2 separate regions of the Homo sapiens genome follow, and region 2 is linked to region 1. The links come from fine-mapping of genetic effects on gene expression. A gene starts in region 1. The other region holds a variant in brackets. All regions are shown on one strand. Distances are between the middles of the regions.

Region 1 (2,907 bases):
GTTCTTTTGACAGGTATACCTTCAATATGTTCAAGCTACAGATGAAGCCAGTCTTTTAACAGTTTTTTAAGGACCTACATGATTACTTACATTAGATAGAAAACTCTAGGCACACATATATCCACATAAGCATTGATGTATATATCCAGTTTCCAATTTTAAAATTTTAAATTGTATATTTGTAGTTATTGTTACAGGGAGATTATCAATGACTAGGGAAGGCCGGGCGCAGTGGCTCATGCCTGTAATCTCAGCACTCTGGGTGGTGGAGGCGGGTGGATTACCTGAGGTCAGGAGTTTGAGACCAGCCTGGCCAACATGGTGAAACCCCGTCTCTACTAAAAATACAAAAATTAGCCAGGCGTGGTGGCGCGGGCCTGTAATCCCACCTACTCGGAAGGCTGAGGCGTGAGAATCGCTTGAACACAGGAGGCAGAGATTGCAGTGAGCGGAGATCGCGCCACTGCACTCCAGCCTGAGCGACAGAGCAAGACTCCCCCTCAAAAACAAACAAAACAAAACAACAACAACAAAAAACAATGACTAGGGAAAGTAGGCCATGAAAAGTGTTGTTTCCAACCTATCAATTGCCAGTACTACAAGCAGGAGTTAGACGTTTGGAGGTTTTCACACGGTGCTATAAATACAGTTTCCAGGGCCCCGGTACACGTGGCCTTCCTGCTCTGCCAGGATGGAGAGTCTTGCTTTCCACATTGCTGATGTGGTCAGACTAATTAAATTATTGCAAAAAGACACATTCCCTAGTCAACCTTATGTGTCTGCCTTCTTCCCTTGAGTCACAGTTGTTGGCTTTACAGGCCAAGGCAAGTAAGTCTTGAACCCTCAGCAGAAACAGGGCACCAGCATCGGATGCCTCATAACCTGAACAGTTAAGGACGCCCCACCACAGAGCTTCTTTCTGAGTGTGATAAACTATAAGGCAAGACTGTAAAGGGGTGGATCTTCATTTCGATTTAGGGTAGGTGACACCTCAAGGGTGTTTCTTCCCTTCCAGCGTAACTGGATGGGAAACCTACACCAAGTGTGCTTGGGAGGGCTGCTTGGGTCAGCTACCTGTAAGTGGAAATAGGGGGTGCCACCTTCCGATGAAAACCCGGATCCCGTACTGTCAACGGAGGGCCCTTGAATTCACATCCCTCAGCCCGCTAGAAAGCCCCTGAAACCACGTGGCCTTTAACCCATTCCGGCAACAGCGCCAATTCCCGGAAGCGAGAGGGCAAGAAAGCTCGGCGCGACGCTTCCCGCGTCTTCTAGGCCGCGCGCTGAAATCAAACGCGACGCCGGCTAGCTGTGGGCCGGGCCGAGCGCTCAACGCTCCAGCGGCTGGGTAAGCCGCGGCCGCCGCCCACCCCGCTGCAGAGCTGGGCGGGGCCGCCTGGAGGCAGCGGGGAGAGGCCAGCCGAAAAGGAAGAAGAGACGCCGGAGGCGCGCTCTGCGCAGGCGCGCGGCGCCCCGCCTCCCCAGCGTCGGCTCCCCGGCGGGCGGTGCGGGCCCTCCCACTCTACCCCGCGCCGTCTCACGGCCCCGGCCCTAGCTTCACCCCGACTACCCGGCGTGCGCGTCCTCCTGCCGGCCTGCAGGCCCGGGGCCTCCGCCTGCTTCCCCACAGCTGCTCCTTGCGGCCCCGCTTGCGTTCACGCTGTCGCCCGGGCCGGCGCGGCCGCGGGCAACCGCTCCCCCTCCCACACCTACCCCGCCCCCTCCCCGCCTTTTCCGCCCTCCGGTCCCCCTCCCTCGGCCCGCTGCTGCTGCTCCAGATGAGGTGATGGCAACGGCCAACTTCGGCAAGATCCAGATCGGGATTTACGTGGAGATCAAGCGCAGCGATGGTGAGCCGCGCTGCCAGCCCCGCTGGCCCGCTCGGCCCCGTGTTCGGGTGTGCACGGAGGGGACGCGGGCGCCGGCCGCCTCATTGATTGCTTCGCCGGGCTGTGGGGGTGGGAAGGCGGCGGCCGCGGCGCTTTTGTGTGTGGCGTGTGTGCCAGTGAGGCCGGCTTGGGGTCCGCCCGGGCGCTGCTGCAGTTCTCCGGATCGGGCCGCGGGGGAGGGAAGCCGGGTGGGGAAAGGGCCCGGGTGTCGAGGGTCGCGTCTCCGGGGGTCTCTGGGCGAGGGCCGCTCGCTCCTCCTCCCGCAATCTCCAGCCCCCCCCCGGGGACACCAGCCCGGGAGGGAGCGGGCTTCGTTAGGGATGACCCTGCCTCGCGCTTCCCCTTGGTCTTTGCATTTTACCGGCTTGGCCTCTGACGGGGATGGGGATGGGGGTGGGGGAGCGGGAAGACCAGCGATTTCACATTTAGAGAACCGACTGCTGGTCGGAGGCCGAGATGGGGGGAAAGAGCCAGTTCCGTCGCCTTAAACTGCCGTCTGGTTGTCAGGCCTCCCCGGTTTCGTCGTCGACCATGCTGCTTTCTTTTTTGCCACTTCTTGGGAGAAAAATGTGGAGAATATCGCGCTGAGCCATGAATAAGGGTGGGGGAGCAATGGGAAGAAATATTCGATGGGCTTCTCCAAGGTGATGAGACTGTAAAGGGAATGATAGGGGATGGGCAGAGTCAATGCGAGGCACTGCTGAGAGAGTGGGGGTGGGCGACCGGATGTTGATATTTTCACACCCTCGGGAGAGGTAACTGAGAAAAGTGTAAGGCGAGGTGAAGACACATGCTTCATTTTTTTTTTTAAGAGCCTTAGGCTTATGTATCTTTCTCTAGGTTTCTCTTGGGGAAAATGGTTTATGACACTAGCTTGGGGTGTGGAGTGAGATACGCCAGCCAGACTGGAAATAATTCATATTGTAAAGGAATAAATGCACGGAGGGAGATAAGTAAAATTATTTTCTTTCGGTACCAATATTGAAAGAACGAGAGATGTGTGATAATCTCGAGTTGA
Region 2 (2,907 bases), 69 kb before region 1:
TTTTGACAAGAACCTTCAAAGCTTTTGAAAAAGATCTTCAGTGTTCATCACACAATGATCGTTGGAACTCTGTTCTAGGAGCTATTAATAGACTTAACTATGAAAAAAGAAGTTCTATGGTCAAATAACTAGGAAATGCTTAACATGATGGAGCCCTTTGTGAACAATTATGACACACATTCGCATGTTGCAGGCTCTGGGCAGCCTGCAGCTAAGAAAACTATTTAGTTTCGTTTAACTCCAACATGTCCCAGGTTTATGTGCACTTTGAGCACCTTTTACTGTATGCTTAGTAACATTTCCTTGAATACCAGCATAGGAAAAAATTGGTTTTAAAAAAGGAAGCAGGCTGAACACGGTGGCTCACACCTGTAATCCCAGCACTTTGGGAAGCCAGGATAGGCAGATCCCTTAAGGTCACGAGTACCAGCCAGCCTGGCCAACATGGTGAAACCCTGTCTCTACTAAAAATACAAAAATTAGCCGGGCGTGGTGGTGCATGCCTGTAGTCCCAGCTATTTGGGAGGCTAAGGCACAAGAATCACTTGAACCCAGGAGGCGGAGGTTGCAGTGAGCCAAGATCACGCAACTGCACTCCAGTCTGAGCAACAGAGCGAGATTCCATCTCAAAAAAAAAAAAAAAAAAAAAAAAGAAGCAACTAATGGTGGAAGTAAAGCCACCCTGACATGATAACAAAAGAGTCATTTTGGGGAAATGACCTCATAACAGCAGTTTCCCCACTCATCCAGAGGTGAGTTGGTGTACTCTCCATGTAGTGACAATAAATATATTTATTAAATAAATAAATCCTGTGTCCATGATTTCCCCACAACTCCATGTTAGATCCTGTTATCATCCATTAGGTATTGAAGTGCTCTCAGCCAAGGAGCACTCGGGGGTTAGTTCTAGATTCCGAGGTAATACTACCAGAAACTAGAAAACGAGGAGAAACAGGTGTCTGAAAAGAGAATCAGAACAGAGAACAGAATCTGATGCAAGGAACTGAAGAAAAGCAAGCTGCAAAACTGACATCTCTTGCACTGCCTCCACTCACTATCTGACTATGTAGACAGAAACATCTAGGTTTTAGGTTGGTGCAAAAGTAATTGCGGTTTTTGCCATTAAAAGTATATTTAAGAATTAACATCCCTAATGAAAGGTACTTGAAGTTTAAGCCACTCTAAATACTAATAAGATACATAGTGTTTGCACATAGAAGGATAGAAAAGCAGGCAATGAGAAAAACTTCTTTGCTGCATATAACTGTCAGTAAATGTGGAAGCTTAGTGGTTCGGAATCTAATAGTTGAGACCAGTTTTCAAAACCACTCCCAATTTCAGGGCGCAGAATGTCTTAGTAACACCCACAAGTTTCATCTAACGAATATGACTAAAGCCAGAAAGCAGCCCTGAGGTTTTTCCGCAGAGAGTCAGCCCTGCCTGGGTCATACATGCCCCTATGCAAAGTGGGCCCAGCAGCTGTCCCCTCCTGGTGCTCGCCCTGCGGGGGAGCAGAGCCAGGGTGGAAACCTGCTATGGGCAGAATGAGGCTGCGCTGGGCTGGAATGAGCCACTCCCTTAGAGAATCTAAATGAGGATAAAGAATTTCTGAACCAGCTAGGAGCCAAAACCCATCCAAGAATAGAA[G/C]TGGAAGGGACTCAAGCTTTTTAAGTTTCTTCCACAGCAATCCAGATTCCAACATTGTTTCTAAGGAGGCTTTTGTTTCCCTGGAGAACTCTAGTTTCAAAGTGGACTTTCTTGCACAAAGAGAGCTTCAATAAAATTGGTTGTGTGAGTGAGTGTTAAGTGTGAATTCAAAGAAGAATATTAGGCTGGGTCTCAGGCATACGTTACTACTACACTATGTATCGTATTAGTAATCAGAGTGGCTTAAACTTCAAGTACCTTTCATTCGGGATGTTAATTCTTAAACATACTTTTAATGGCAAAAACTGCAATTACTTTTGCACCAACCTAATACCTAGATGTTTCTGTCTACATCTCAGAAGCCAGAGGTGCCTCTTGAGAACACTGAGGTACCCTGACAAGGACCACATCCAGACAGGAAGAGCACACAGCACAGTGGCTGTGAGCGTGGGTTTTCCATGAGATAGACCTCAGTTAGAATCTCAGCCTCAACACTTACTAGCCATGCAGTCAGGGGAAATCTTGCTGTATGATCCTGCTGAGCCTTGGTTTCCTTAACTGTAGAGAGACTAAGAATCTCTAACTTACTTGGGGATTCAATGCAATAATATGTATCACAGGCCAGGCACGGTGGCTCACGCCTGTAATCCCAGCACTTTGGGAGGCTGAGGTGAGTGGATTGCTTGAGCCCAGGAGTTTGACCACCCTAGCAACATGGTGAAACGCCATCTCTACCAAAAATACACACACACACACACACACACACACACACACACACACCAGGCAGGCATGGTGGCACTTGCCTGTAGTCCCAGCTACTCGGGGGCCTGAGGTGGGAGGATCACCTGAACTTTGAAATTTGAGGCTGCTGTGAGCCAAGACGGTACCACTACACTCCAGTCTGGGAGACAGGAGTGAGACCCTGTCTCAAATAATTATAATAATACATGTAATATTTAGCATTTTACCTGGCATATCATAAGTACTTGATATATTGTAGTCATTATAAAGGTCAAATTTCTCTCCAGGACTGGGTTAGAAAATATGAGGAAAATAGATAAGTTCATAGAACTAATTAGGAAAGAGAGAAAGTTAAACTCTCCTATGACTTGATAAAATGTCTGTAGAAAAAGACAATTTCAGCAGGGTTGCATCAGATAAATTGAACCCATCCCCTGCCACATTTGTCCCTCGGCCTTTATATCCTCAGCATGACATTGAACTGATAGGACCAGAAGGTACTGGGAGAAATGTAAAGAT

Which allele goes with the higher level. Positions count from the first base shown, and alleles are read on the strand shown. Sizes are in standard deviations (SD) of each study's normalised expression.
As copies of G replace C in region 2, the expression in gastroesophageal junction of the gene that starts at base 1,520 in region 1 goes down (moderate effect, 0.57 SD a copy in GTEx).

Evidence for each region. PIP is the estimated chance that this variant, and not a neighbour inherited with it, causes the effect.
Region 2: its variant is the best candidate, but not a certain one, in a credible set for the expression of KIF2A in gastroesophageal junction (GTEx, PIP 0.77).

Annotation. Positions count from the first base shown.
Region 1 is chr5:62,304,687-62,307,593 of GRCh38, forward strand. It overlaps KIF2A (kinesin family member 2A), which reads left to right and starts at 1,520. Exons shown (of 21, transcript NM_001098511.3): 1 at 1,520-1,850. The coding sequence starts at 1,787. RefSeq lists a silencer at 1,224-2,253.
Region 2 is chr5:62,235,307-62,238,213 of GRCh38, forward strand. No RefSeq gene overlaps it. Among named protein-coding and RNA genes, the nearest start is that of KIF2A, 69 kb to the right of the region's middle. RefSeq lists enhancers at 1,010-1,511, 1,065-1,264, 1,512-2,011. The variant G/C (reference allele first, on the strand shown) is at 1,648.